Homo sapiens: one gene and its partner. The protein of the gene in region 1 purifies or fractionates together with the protein of each later gene. This does not show direct contact. Each region holds a gene or a part of one and is shown in the gene's direction. Other genes may lie near its edges.

Region 1 (7,955 bases):
AATAAGACCTTCGGCCCACTGTGTGACCTCGGGCCACGTCCTCACCCTCTCTGGGCCTAGAATCTGTCATATTTCTTGGCATGGGATTAGAGGAGGCTGGGAAGATTCTCTGAAATTTATGGCCACCTCTCCTCCTCTATGCCAGCACCCGGCTCCTGTGAGTGGTGCTTTTAGGAGCTCATGTGTTTGCAGCCACCTCATCCTGGCCTTGGCTCGTTGCTGTTTTTAGTACCTTGGAGATGACACTTTGTGACCTCACAGACCATAACCAAAGCCCAAAGTGATAAACACTGGATCATCAAGAAAAGGGTACATCAGGTTTAACCTTTAAGCAGTTAAAACAGAGGAAAAAGTTGCATGGCTCAAAGGCACAAGACCTCGGGTTCCCAGCAGCCTGGTGCTGCAGAAAGCTGCGGTTTCATGGTCCACAGCTCAGCACAGCATCAGGTTGTGGAGACACTTCTGATCCTGCCCTGCCTGGTCCATCCCCCCAACTCCCTTGGGGCCTCTGGGAGCCTCCAGTCCCTTCAGTCACAGTAGTCACTGACGGGACTCTGAACCAGGAGCCTTTCGTGTGGTGGCTGCGGGGTATATGGGGTCTCACCAGCACCTGCTTCCCCTGCCTTGGTAACGCTAAGTGCTGCCATGAGGGGGTGCCTTGTGCCTCCATCAAGAACAGAAAACCCGCAGAGTAAGTCCTCATTCTCTGGCCACGAATGAGGACTTGGAGCCTGAGGACTTGGATGGGCATGCCCACTGTGTCTGCTGTGTGACCACCAGCAAGTCATAGAGTCCCTGCAGGCTTCATCTCTCTTCTGTAAAAGGGGGGCAGAGATAGGCCTCCCCTCGTCAGATGGCTATGGGCAGGGGATAAGTAAAGAACCTGGCCCCAGGCCTGGTCCTGCAAGCCCTTGATATTCCCACTCAAGAGACCAGCTACTCCCCACCACTGGGCCATTCATAACATCCTCCTGCCCCTCCAGGAGGTGGCCTAGAGCTGGTGTGGCCTGAGTCCATTTGCCCTAGGGAGAAAGGGAGGGGAGTCAGGGGAAGAACTGGGGAACCCAGGGTTCTGCCCTAGAAGGCAGGGCCCAGAAGGGGCTCGTGAGGGAACTCCCAGACTCTCAGGGGCCCATGTGGGTGCTGGGCAGAAGCAGGGAGTGAGGACAGCCACATCTCTGCACTGAGACCTGGCCTGAAAATCAGAAGACCTCGGTTCAATTACTGGCTCCATAGCTGTGCTGTGTGACTTTAGGCAGTTGCTTAACCTCTCTGAGCCTGGTCAGTAATTGAGAATAAAGGTCTCTGAGTTTCCTGGTCAGTCATTGAGAATAAAGACACCTAACTGGAAGGCTGTCTATGGCTGTCTTTACTCTCATTTGCCACATGAGATGAAGGACTGACCCACAGTGAGGGTTCAGCAAACAGCAGTGGAGACTAAATTGTCAGTCTAGGGTGCCATGGTCCTTTCCACTCTGGCTCTACAGTTAGATCAGGACAGCAAGGCTCAGAGAGTTTTAGCAGCTTGTCCAAGGTCACACAGGATGTGCACATCATCACCTTTCTGGGCCACTTGCTCCTGCGTAGGACCCTCAGGTTTCAATCTGGCCTGAGGTGAAATCCTCCCAGGGAGCTTTGAGCCTGACTTGGTGCCCGAGTGGGTTTTTTCATTACAGAATGGTAGTCCCGAGGACACAGGAAGAGATGCATCTCTTATATTTTCACTGACAATGCATGAAGGAATGGAAGCATTTCCACAAAAATATCAACACCATGAAGACTGAGCTGTCTGCTGATGGGCTGCCCAGGAGAACTCCCCATTTCTGGAGGTGTGCCAGCAGAAGCTAAGTGACACTGGATGGGAAGTTGGACTTGGTGGCCTTTAAAAGACCCTCCACATGGCTGCAAGGCAAGCCTGAGTCTGCTCAGTTTCCACCCACTCCTCCTCCTGCAGACTCAAGCTCTGCCTCCTAGACTTGGCCTTCAAGGCCTCTGGACTCAATCATCCTCTGTGCTCTCATCTGTCTCTCATCTGGCCTGGGAGCTCCAAAAAAGTAGGCATTGGGCATTTTTATTCAGCAACTGTCCTGGGCCCACCAGAGGAGAGAGGTCATGTTTACTGAGCAAAGGCCCCCGCGACCAGGAACTTCACACGTGTCATTACAGGCCATCCTCATACACCCGGTACTGTAATTAGTTTCACTTTGCAGGTCAGCAAACCAAGGTCAGGAAGGCTGAGCAACCTGCCAAAAGTCACACAACAACATGACTGCCAAAGAAGTGAAGAGATGAAGGAAGGGGCGCTGAGCCTGTGGGCTTCCCGGCTTTTAGCCCCTGGTCCCCAGAGGCATCTGCAGCAGGTGGGCACGCTTGGTTGCCCATCTGCCTCAAATGTGGGGGAGCCCCATCCGGGCACTGAGTAAGGTGGAACCCCACGAGCTGACTAACCACAACCACAGCCTCTGGGGGCGGGGGAGTGGGAGGTGGGGCACTCACCCCCAGCCCACCATAGCCCCAGCCCCGCCCTCCTGGGCCCTAGCAGAAGCTCTGCCATGGCCCAGTGATTTCTGCTTGGTAGCAGCTCCGGGAAGGGTGAGGCAGTGCTCAGCGAGCCTGGGTCTGGATGGCTGGGAGCTGGTCTGATACACAAGGCCAGGAACTGCCCGAATGATCCAGTCACTCTGCTCATACTGCAGGGCAGCTTCAAAGCACTTTCCTGAACATTTGGCCCCTTGGACAGGGACCTGGAAAAGGAAGCCCACAGGATATAGGAGTATCCACCAACTGCCACAATAAAGGCAGTGAGAAGTTGCCTAACAACCACTGGGTGCAGGCTCCAGCTGGATCCATTGCACTTAGTTCTAGCACCAACTCCAAGTAGTAGCTACTATCTTTCCCACTTTACAGATAGGGGCACTGAGGTTCCATTTGACCAAATGGAGCACTAGAGACCAGAGAGGGGGCTGGATGGACCAGCTAGGACCCTGTGGACATAGATCTGAGGCCTTGGGTGGCTGGGAGGGAAGGGAAAGAGGTTTGGATACCCTTCGCAGGCCCTGCTGAGAGATTCCTTACCTGCACCTCCTGCCCATCCCCTCACTGCAGCTCAGGCCTCCTCCTTAGGGAAGCCTTCCCTGATTTCCTCTTCTAAGACTAGGTCAGGCCCCTATGGCACCTGCTATCATGGCTTGTCCTCTCTGGGTTGACCCCATCTCCCCAGATCCATCTCCACAGTGGACTGAACAGGGGTAAGAAAAGGCAGTAACTGTAGAGACTTCAGGGAATCCCGCTTCTGAGCCCAGCCTTACCCTGATTTGCCACAAGGCCCTGGGTGGTCACTTTCATGCATGTAAAATGGGGCACCCTGCCCCACTCTCAGGGCTGGTGACGATCAGGGAAGAGAAACACTGTGGAAGAGGCCCCTTCTACACTTGGAACCAGGACCTGGAGGACAGCCAGGGCCCCTCTCTTCTAGGGACCCGCATACTAGAGTCCACAGGCAGCAAGGCAGGGTACCTGTGATTTGGTAGGGTCAAGGCATCTAGAAGAGAGGTGGCTTTGGGAAAGATCTGCTTCAACCTCCAATCTAAATGACAATACCGCCACCCCATATTTGCACAGTACTTTAAAAATTCGGGCAAGATAATGCCCAAACTGAATCAGACTTAGCTTTATGAACAGATTGGGCTCAAATCACTGATTCTTATTAGCTGTGTTGACTTTGGACACGCCATTTAACCTTTTCTGAGCCTCAGGTTCCCCAGCTATAAATAGGGACCTTACTAGTCTCAGACAATTGGTTTTCATGTGTACACACTGCCCCCACCCCTAGCCTCAGCTTCTCCATCCGAAAACAGGACTTTGATGGTGCCGTTTCACAGGCTGTTGAAGGGTCCCGCAGATGATGGAGGAGTACGGGTCCAGACACTAGAGCACAATCCGGAGAGGAAAAGTGACCTGCCAGGACCCACCAGAGTGGACGGCTTGGTGCGGGGAACCCCCTCCGCGGCCGCCCCAGGGCCAGCGAAGGGTCATTTCCTTCCGCATTCAGCCCCGCCGTCACCTCGCCTGTTTGCCCCCGCGTTAAGTGCGGCGGCGCCAGCAGCTGGGAAATCGGGGCCAGGCCGGATTTCCTCTGTGGACCTGCGGCTCCTAGAGCCACCGCGCCCCCCTCCGGACCCCGCGGGGCCGCGAACTGCACGTGCGGCGGCCGCTGGGATGGGCCTCGCTCCCACGGCGCTTCCTCTGCAACCCCTCTCCCTCCCGCCCTCTCATCCCCCCACACTGGGCCCCCGCCCCTTCCCGGCCGAGGTCCCAGGGTGGTGAAGATGCTTCGCCGCCCCACCCCACTCCGCCCCCGCCGGCTCCGGATAAACCGAGGCACGGGGCCAGGCGCTAGGACCCCACGGCCTCGCCAGAGGGGGGCGTGGCGGGGCGGGCCGGCGGGAGAGGTATTTAAATTGCAGCCGGAGCGCGGGGGCTCCGGTGGGGCAGCTGAGCGGCCTGCTCCTCCTCGGGCCGTGACCCCGGGGTCTGGCGCGGGGTGGGACCCGGGGGCGGGTTTGCGCAAAATGTGCCGAGACTGCCCGGGAGAGGAGCTGCGGCCGCGCTGAGCCAGGTAGGAGCCGCCGGGCAGGCGAGGCTGGCCGGCCCTCGGGGGGCGCACTGTCGCGCGCCTCTAGCGAGCGCAAGGCGGGGGCTGGTCCCAAGGGACGCCCCCCAAACACTCCCCTCCCGCCATCCCCACTGCGCGCGTGGAGCCGGGGCTGACCCTCCCTCGGTCCCTGGGAGTTCCCCAGCGCTCCTGTCTTGGCGGATCTTTCCCGCAAAGGGGTGAGGCCGGCCTTCCCATTTGACAGCTGGGAAAACAATGGCCTGAAGACCGTGACTTGCCCAGGAACACACAGCTAGGCAAGGGCAAACCGGAATTTGAATTCAGGTTTCCTGCAACGCTCCGATCCCAGCCAGGCGTGGGGCTGCCCATCCCACAGCACTAGATGGCCTGCCCATTTCTCGTAGTGGGGTAGGGGGCACCCACCGCTCTCCAAGGGGCTCTGAACCCAGCCTTCTTCATGGGTGGTAAGATGTGAGGGGCCCCCACCCCCACGCCGAGCTGCCTGAAATTCCGCCATCACAGCCACATTCCTTTGGGTTAAGGTCTAATTCCCCCGTGGGATGCACATGTCTCCAGAACGAGGCTTGCCCTTAGTGATTCACTGCTTGACAGGAACGTCCGCAGCAGCTCTCCCAGGACCCCACTCTGCCAGTAAGTCAGCTGAGGCCGAGAGGAGGGAGAGAGGACCTCAGAGGCCAGACTGTGAGCTAGTCTGCCCTGCTCCTGCGTGTGAGGGGTCGTTGGCAGGGCTTAGGGAAGGAGACCTTGATTTGGTATAGTGGGAACATTTGCTTTGGAGACAGATGAACTGGATTCTGATCGTGACCCTGCTATTTTCTCCTTGTGTGACTTTGGGTAAGTCACTTCTCTGAGCCTCCTTTTCTTCATGGGCAAAAAAAAGACAGTTCTATTGGGGGCAGTCGGCTCAGCATGTGCTGGAGAAAACACAGTATTCAGGTCATGTAGAACTGGATAAATCCCAGCTCCAAAGCCCTTATGAGCTGGGTAACTCTGGGGGTAAGTCACTTCACTTTCCGGAAACTGTTTTCTCATCCGTAAAATGGGAATTACAGTAATTTCCTCAATAGGTGATTGTGAGAATTAAATGAGATGATATAGGTCAAGTGCTTAGAAGACTAACATCCTTAAATGTAGGGGTGGGCTTATTGTGGTAGTAGTCATTGCCCCCCGTACCCCTGCTCTTTCTCTCTCACTCTCTCTCTCTCTCTCACACACACACACACACACACACACACACACACACACACACATTCTTTGGCACTTTTCTGAGTTGGACTCCTGAGAGTCCGACTCTCCTGCCTCCTCTTGCCCAGGCCACTTGTCTGCAGGCTTGGGGCCTCCCCACTGAGCACACCTCACCTGGGATGCTCAGCCCTGCGAGGGTCACTGTGTCAGCTGGGAAGGACAGTGAGGATGCAGGGCACCTTCGCCACCATTCTTTGCCTGATCATCACAATAGTTGGGGTTGGCCAGTGGCAGAACTGGAACCCAGCTGCCTACCCTGCAGACAGGACACTGGGGCACCAAGAAAGGAAGGGACTTACCTTAGGGAGCAGAGCTGGTGAGTGGTGGGCTTTGGATGCAAGCCTGGGTCTAAGTGACACCGTCCTCCTTTTTGAGAGAGAGTAGTCTTTAAATGCTACACCCTGTACTTGGGCACCACTGAGGAGGGCCCACAGCTGAGGGGCCCTTCCCGTCAGATGCCAGGACAGAGTGCCCATGTGCTGCAGGGACGATCCCTTCTGGATGTGCACAGGGCCACCTTGGGGATAGAGTGGGGTTTGGCAGAGGAAGGGGAAATAAGGGCCTAGGACCCTTCCTTGTCCTCACCTGGCACTCACCACTCAGTCCACTGCAGCTGAGCTTCTGCCCTGATTTTGCCACTTGTTCACTAGTCTTTAGTGAGTACCTACTTAGTAGGCCCCTGTTCCCACATGATAAGAAATAAATGATGAGGAAATGATAAATGTGGGAAAACAATGACATGTGTGAGGAGCTGAGGAAGAGCATTCAGGGAGAGGAAACTGCAGGAGCAAAGGCCCTGTGGCAGGAATGAATTTGCTGTGTTGAAGGAACAGCAGGAAAGCTGGAATGTGGTGAGGGAAGGGAAAATGGGCAAGAGTCAGAGAGGAGACTGTGGATAGCCTGGATTTTCTTGGAGATTTTCAAACAGAAGAGGTTTAGGATCTGACAGATGATTTTATATTATCACTCTGGCTGCTAGGTACAGGACAGATTATAAGAGGTCAGGGTGCTGTGGTCAAGGCCAGGATTGGGGTGGCGTCTCGGTCTGTGGCAGTGATAAGAGGGAAGTAGGAAGATCCGGGGTCTCTTTCAGGGAGAGCAGTCAGAGCCCACTGACGGCATGGATGGGTGAAGGGAACGTTGCAGAGAGGTGAAGGGAGAGCCAAGGAGAACTGCTCTCAGTAACGACCCCATGTCACCGAGACTCCTAGTGTCGGTTTTCTGTCCGCTGCTGACCTGTTGTGTGCTGTGAGATGCATCTTAAAGGATGGTGAGCCCCTCTCTAGGGGCACTTCCCATGGGAGGGGGTGGGGCCCAGTAGCCACGGAGGGCTTGGTGCTGTGCTCACTGGAAGCTCAGGGGCTCTGGGAGGACTGGAGGACATAGTCCAGACTTGGGGAACCAAAGAAGGCCTCTTGGCCCATCTAAGCTGGGACCCCAAGGATGAGGAGGTCTTTAGCAGAAGAGGAGAGGGGAGAAAGTGAAGGTTTGGGGCAGTGAAAATCTGCTCAGGGAACTGAAGGAAATATGAGGTGTCCAGAACCCAGAATGTGAGAGGGGACACCGGGGAAGCAGGCTGGAGAGCAGAGCTGGCCAGGCAGGGCATGCTCCCCAGTGGCCTGGAAGGCCCTGCCGGAGGGGTTTTCACTCAGTTCTGAATATGCTAACTTTCTAACGGGCGGTGGCGTTCTGCTTTTTAAACAGCAGAACAAAGTTTCCTGTGAAAGCACAACCTGTAATGCAGGTGAGAGCAGAGCAGCTGCAGGGGCAGCGCCTGTGGCCCTGAGGGGAGCCAGGGAATAGGGTTTACCGGGTCCGGCTGTGGTCTGTGCGCCTTCAAGAGAGATGGGATTCAGAGCAGCCATCTTCGTCCATAGCTCATCACTAGCGGGTTCCAACAGTCAAAGACACTGCCCTCAAATGCCCTGTGAATGCCTTTTCTCCTGCAGCATCCTTCAGAATCGCGGTTCAGCACTCACTGAGGGAGCACCCACTGTGGGAGGCCTGGGAGTGTGGATTTGAAGGGCACAGACCCAGGAGCCAGACTCACCTGGGCCGGTGGCTTGTTCACCGT
Region 2 (7,000 bases), on another chromosome or scaffold:
AGATGTGGGAATGGGGGCCGAGCCAATTGTGATGTAAGTTTTGTTGGGGATGAAAGACAACTGGGGTGTTTTCCTTGAGGGAGAGAGGGGTAAAGATCCTTCTTAATCCCCAGAATTAGAAACATCAACCTGTTCTTTCAGCTGTAGTTATTCCAAAAAGTCACTTCAGGCCAAAGTGACATGAACAGAAGTTCCATGTGCCATGGAGCTCTCTGGCTTGGAACATTTCCGTGAATATCTGGGAGTTGGCTCCTCCTTAAGGAGAAGTGGAAAGTCCCTTGCTGAGTTGTTCTCCACACCCATGTGGTATAAAGCAGCTTTCCACCTTGCCTGGGGCTTTCCAAATTCCCCATCCAGCTCCTGCGGCTGACCCTGCTTGGCTCCATTTTTAGTGCCCTGTTTTTCTCTCCCACTGAGGTGGGATAGAGGGTGTAAAAGCAACAGATTTGAGTTAAACTTTAAAATAAATGACCACCTTGCATTAGCTTGCTTAGGAAAAGAGTACATAAAATAAAATGAACAAACAAAAACCCATCTTGTTCTTTATCCCCCTTATTTTCTGCTTTTCATTGATTCAGATTATTGGATTCTTATTGTCAAGAATAAACTTTAAACAAACAAACAAAAAAAGGTAAATGTGACGGAAGGCTAGTTTTCAGTCATTTTTAAAAATTGTGATGCCCCGTTCTTTTTCTTACATTTGTCCCCTGAACAATTCTTCCTCTTTAAAATGTAGCAGTCCTAGCTGGGCGTGCTGGCTCACACCCCGTACTTTGGGATGCCAAGGCAGGCTGGTCACTTGAGGTCAGGAGTTCAAGACCAGCCTGGCCAACATGGTGAAAGCCCGTCTCTACTAAAGATACAAAAATTAGCTGGGTGTGGTGGTGCACGCCTGTAGTCCCAGTTACTGGGGAGGCTGAGGCATGAGAATCGCTTGAACCTGAGAGGTGGAGCTTGCAGTGAGCCAAGATTTTGCCACTGCACTCTAGCCTGGGCAACAGAGTGAAACTCTGTCTCAAAAAAATAAATAAAATAAAATGTAGCAGTCCTTTTTAAAAATGTGGAATTTTACTTGACAGTAGAGTGAAGTAGCCTGTATGCAATGATATGGGAAAATGTACATGACATATTAAGAAAAAGCAAAATGTAAAATAATTTGAATAGTATTATTAGTATATGTGTTTTAAAAATACACTATACTCTTATGTGTATTCATATGTATATTAAGAAATTCTGGAGGAATATACCAGCAGTGCTATGTGTATTAGTGCTGCTGTTGGTATCCATGGCTATTCTAGACTGTCTCTGTGATATTTGCATTTTAAACTGAATATATTACTTTTATAATCAGAAAAATAGTATTAAAAATGAATTATAATTTAATTTCTTTTTTCTTTTTTTTTTTTGAGTCGGAGTCTCGTTCTATCGGATTGCAGTGGTGCGATCTCAGCTCACTGCAACCTCTGCCTCCTAGGTTCAAGCGATTCTCCTGTCTCAGCCTCCCAAGTAGCTGGGACGATAGGTGCATGCCACCACGCCTGGCTAATTTTTGCATTTTTAGTAGAGACAGGGTTTCACCATATTGGTCAGGCTGGTCTTGAACTCCTGACCTCGTGATCCACCCATCTCGGCCTCCGAAAGTGCTGGGATTACAGGCATGAGCCGCTGTGCCCAGACTAGAATTCAATTTTTGAGAATTCATTGACAACTCTTACTTAAAATAAGGTTGCTGTACTGATGTGAGACATTGTTGTAGTCAGTTTGGAAAACAATTTGGCAGTATAAAAATGAACATACCTGTAAACCAACGGTGCCATTCCCAGGATTTAATAGCAGAGAAATCTTTGCATATATGTCCCAGGAGACATATATAAAGTGGACATCAGCCTGATTATAAGCTCTAAATGCAACCCAAATAAATACCCATCAACATTAGAATGAATACATTATTTGTGGTATAGACACAATGGAATACTCCGCAGCTGTGAAAAGGAATACACTGCAGATACACATAACCATGTGGATTCATTTCACATCAAGTGAAAAGTGAATCCCAAAAGAATTCATTGGAGTCCATAAGTGTAAGGTTCACAAATGTCCCAAACTAAACAATACCTGCATTGCTTAGATAAACAAATATGGTAAAACTGTAAAAAAACAAAACAAAACAAGACAAAAAGGGCTAGGAAATGATAAACCCAAAAGACAAAATAGCAGTTATTTCTGAGGGAGGAGGGAAGGGGATGGGGTTGGGGAAGGGCACCCAGAGAATTTTAGGAGTGATGGACTTTTCCTTAAATTGAATGGTGGGTTCATATTGTTTTGTTATTCTTTGTGCCTTACGTATTTTACAAATAACCAATTGGATCTATGTAATATTATAATACAAACTGAGTAAAGGATTAGGTTGAGGATCACAGCATTGGAAGTTCTTGGTGTTGAAGAGAGTAAGTGCCGAGCAAGTTGTGTCCCTGGCAGTTTGTTTGTGACCACCTGGTGGCTTACCCTTCTTGGTGTGGTGAGGCTTGGCATGTCACTTTCCTTGGCTGTGGCTGTTAGTACTGAATGCCATTCTCTCTGAGGAAAAGTGTCCTTCTCTTTTTTATTGATTGACTGATTGATTGAGACAGAGTCTCACTCTGTCACCCAGGCTGGAGTGCAGTGGCGTGATCTCGGCTCACTGCATCCTCTGCCTCCTGGGTTCAAGCGATTCTCCTGCCTCAGCCTCCTGAGTAGCTGGGACTACAGGCGCCCACTACCACACCCAGCTAATTTTTGTATTCTTAGTAGAAACGGGGTTTCACCAAATTATTGGCCAGGCTGGTCTCGAACTCCTGACCATGTGATCCACCTGCCTCGGCCTCCCAAAATGCTGGGATTGTAGGTGTGAGCCATCACGCTCAGCCTTTTTTTTTATTTAATTTAATTTTTTTTTAAGACAGGGTCTCACTCTGTCACCCCAGCTAGAGTGCAGTGGCACAATCATAGCTCGCTGCAGCCTCCATCTCCTAGGCTCAAGCCATCCTCCCACCTCAGCCTCTCGAGTAGCTGGGGCTATAGGTGTGCACCACCACACCCAGCTAATTTTTGTATTTTTTGCAGAGATGGAGTTTTGCTGTGCTGCTTAGACTGGTCTCGAACTCCTGGGCTCAGGCAATCCTCCTGCCTTGGCCTCCCAAAGTGCTGGGATTACAGGCATGAGCCACCACACCTGGCCTAAGAGTGTCCTTCTCGTTACTGTAGGCTTCCCTGATTGTGACTGAGGAGCTGCACCTGATCACCTTTGAGACCGAGGTGTATCACCAAGGCCTCAAGATTGACCTAGAGGTAAGTTCTGCAGCAGAATCGGTGAGAGGCTACGTACAGGGGTGACTCAGGACAAAAACTTCCACTGGGATTTTTACAAGAGAAGGTGGAATGATTACTGTTTGCTTAACACTGTGTTTATTTTTGCTTACTTTTCTCCAAAAAAATCCTTGGCATCCCATCTGGCAATAAAGTCTTGCTTGAATGCTTAGAAGATGTGTGTATATTCAGCTTTCAGCAAACTTGATATGAAAATCTCTATTTAGAAATTGATTGGCCGGGCGCGGTGGCTCACGCCTGTAATCCCAGCACTTTGGGAGGCTGAGGCGGGTGGATCACGAGGTCAGGAGTTCGAGACCAGCCTGGCCAACATGACGAAACCCCGTCTCTACTAAAATACAAAAATTAGCTGGGTATGGTGGCGGACGCCTATAATCCCAGCTACTCGGGAGGCTGAGGCAGGAGAATCACTTGAACCTGGGAGGCAGAGGTTGCAGTGAGCTGAGATTGTGCCATTGCACTCCAGCCTGGGTGACAGAGTGAGACTCCGTCTCAAAAAAAAAAAAAAGAAATTAGAACTGACTTTATAAAGTTTGGGCATAAGAGTCTTAGCAGCCAGTGTGTTTAGTATACAGAAAATTGTGGCAATGACATTCTCCTTTCCCAACTTTCTTGATTTTTAAATTAAGATATACCTAGAAAAGCAGGAATCCTGGTCTTTGATTCCTGAGACCTCCCTGTTTCATGTGAAGATACAGCTTCAAGTCTTGGAGAATGCCTCCAAGGTCTTAAAAATGGGGAATCTGTGGATTGTGAGTCAAGCTTTGAGCAAGTCAGGTTTTACAAGGGACCGGTATATTCCGACTGCAGCCTGAGTTGTGTGGCCACGCTGGGCATTCTTTCCACTATGAGTGCTCACTGAGCTGACTCACTCACACTCCTCGCCTAGAGTTGGCAGCAGGTGTGGTTTATGGCATGTCCTTTCATTCTGAGCCCCGTGAGATGCGGGTGAAGAGATTTCCAAGGCTGTGAGAGCCCCTCTGCCTCCCCAGCTCAGTCCCCACTCCCTCCGCAGACCCACTCCTTGCCAGTTGTGGTGATCTCCAACATCTGTCAGATGCCAAATGCCTGGGCGTCCATCCTGTGGTACAACATGCTGACCAACAATCCCAAGGTTAGTGCCCCCTCCTTTTAGTTGGTGCCCCGGGATCTCTTGCGACTTAGGGGTACCTAGTATAGACAATGAGCACCATCCCTCATCTAAACAAGCAAATGTGTTCTTTCCAATAGAATGTAAACTTTTTTACCAAGCCCCCAATTGGAACCTGGGATCAAGTGGCCGAGGTCCTGAGCTGGCAGTTCTCCTCCACCACCAAGCGAGGACTGAGCATCGAGCAGCTGACTACACTGGCAGAGAAACTCTTGGGTCCGCATTTCACCCCTTCTCCCTCCCGCCCACCCGCCCAGAAAAGGGATCCGGCCCATAGGGCTGTTCATTTGGGCCATGTCTACTGAGCATTAGGCCATGTTTCTTTCCTGAGCAAGGCGCTGTGCTGGTGCCAGGAAACAGGGGAGTTGGGGAGTTGGGGTGCAGAGACAGTTTGCAGTTTTCAGTCGAGGTGATCATTTTTGAGGTGGGAGGTAGATTTCTTTTCTCCTGGTTGCTGTCTCATTCACCCACTCTATCTAACTTTAGAAGATCTTTTAAGTGTGTGTTGGAAGGTGGCACTAAAGGCTTGACATTCCCTGTCCATTTTTTTAATAAACTATAGGCTAGTTGGTTTTTTTTGTCTTATTTTATTTATTTATTTATTTTTTTGAGACGAGTCTTGCTCTGTTGCCCAGGCTGGAGTGCAGTAGTGTGATCTCGGCTCACTGCAACCTCCGCCTTCTGGGTTCAAGCGATTCTTCTGCCTCGGCCTCCCGAGTAGCTGAGACTACAGGTGCTCACCACCACGCCCAGCTAATTTTTGTATTTTTAGTAGAGACGGGGTTTTACCATGTTGGCCAGGATAGTCTCCGTCTCTTCACCTCGTGATCCGCCCACCTCGGCCTCCTAAAGTGCTGGGATTACAGGCTTGAGCCACTGTGCCCAGCGTAGGCTAGTTTTTAAAAAAGAATTAGTGGAATATTTTATGTGCCACCTGGGCTAGAAGTAGCTTTGTTCTAATAAAGCTGTTGCCACCAAATACACCTGTCTGACACCCGATGTCAGCTTGTTAGTGAGTGCTGCTGTTGGTTCCCAGCCTACCACCCGAGGTTGGGAAGAGCAGGGGGACTTGTTATATCACCCTCCATCCCTGCTGGGCTACCCAGCAACACAAGTGAGTCAAATGATGGGATAGTGTTTGTCCTCATGTGCACACACACAACAGTGCCTACCTTCAAAGATGTGAAAGCTGATTATTTTGTGGCCCATTGTGGGATGAATGTGTGTGTGTTCTGTTTTAAGAAATAACCTCTTGACCCCAAGCTGAAAATGTACTACTTGACTCTTTTTCTTTCCTTCAGGACCTGGTGTGAATTATTCAGGGTGTCAGATCACATGGGCTAAATTTTGCAAAGTAAGCAATCTTGTTAAATTCTCGTGGGAATGGGAATGCTCACCTGCACGGCTGTCGTTGAGGGCTCTGGCTTGAAGGCCCTGAACTCTTGGTCCAGCGGCCAGTAGGACCTGCCTGAAGGTAGACGGGCCTGAGGATTTGGGTGATGCACTGCACCCCTAGGAAGGGAAGGGCTGGGATGGCAGTAGACTTGGCTTTCCCATTACTCTTTTCTCCAGGAAAACATGGCTGGCAAGGGCTTCTCCTTCTGGGTCTGGCTGGACAATATCATTGACCTTGTGAAAAAGTACATCCTGGCCCTTTGGAACGAAGGGTAGGTTGGACAGAGTGTGCACAGATGTAACCAAGTCCCCTGCTCTCAGCAAGCCAGTGGCAGGGGATGGATGCCCTGTTAGCAATAACAACATTGTTCCTCCTCCTTGGCTCCAGGTACATCATGGGCTTTATCAGTAAGGAGCGGGAGCGGGCCATCTTGAGCACTAAGCCTCCAGGCACCTTCCTGCTAAGATTCAGTGAAAGCAGCAAAGAAGGAGGCGTCACTTTCACTTGGGTGGAGAAGGACATCAGCGGTAAGGGAGGCTCCCACCCACCCCACCTGCTGGTGGCTGCTGAGGCCTCATCACTGCTTCTAGTTGCAAGCACCTACTGCCCCCTGGTGGGTGGAGATGGCCTTGACTCCCTGTTTCACTCAGACTCGCAAAACACATTTGCGTGACTTCTAAATCCTTCCAGCTGAAGGATTGGTTTGCTTTGTTTTGCTTGCTCCAGTGACTATTTGTTGAGAATTTTGCAATTTAAATTGTATTCTTCATCTCTTTTTCTACTTAACCCTGTTAATATATCTTACGCAAGTAGTTATATTCAAGTTTATTTTCTATGACCCAACTAGTAGCCTCTTCTTAATTAGAAGCCAGCCTGAATATTTCCACAGTGCCAGGCCACTGAACAGGGTGTTCAGGGTCTCAACACTAGGGTGGCTTAAGTCTTTTCCCCTTCGAGGAAAGAAAAAATGGGCAGTTTTCTCTGAGATGACCTAGCTGTAGGTTCCATGATCTTTCCTTCCCATGTCCTGTGACAGGTAAGACCCAGATCCAGTCCGTGGAACCATACACAAAGCAGCAGCTGAACAA

Evidence for each region.
Region 2: the proteins of LRRC32 (region 1) and STAT3 purify together in Homo sapiens (co-immunoprecipitation; 3 studies listed by BioGRID and IntAct, with this or other methods). This does not show direct contact.

What each region holds. Positions count from the first base shown.
Region 1 is NC_000011.10:76,667,277-76,675,231, reverse strand, and holds the start of LRRC32 (transforming growth factor beta activator LRRC32 isoform a precursor), read left to right. Parts: upstream 1-4,484; 5' UTR 4,485-4,618; exon of another isoform or gene 4,619-5,470; intron 5,471-7,955.
Region 2 is NC_000017.11:42,322,443-42,329,442, reverse strand, and holds part of STAT3 (signal transducer and activator of transcription 3), read left to right. Parts: coding exon 1-33; intron 34-3,243; coding exon 3,244-3,327; intron 3,328-4,381; coding exon 4,382-4,480; intron 4,481-4,596; coding exon 4,597-4,732; intron 4,733-5,817; coding exon 5,818-5,870; intron 5,871-6,088; coding exon 6,089-6,183; intron 6,184-6,299; coding exon 6,300-6,439; intron 6,440-6,948; coding exon 6,949-7,000. UniProt on the Homo sapiens protein: Signal transducer and transcription activator that mediates cellular responses to interleukins, KITLG/SCF, LEP and other growth factors. Once activated, recruits coactivators, such as NCOA1 or MED1, to the promoter region of the target gene.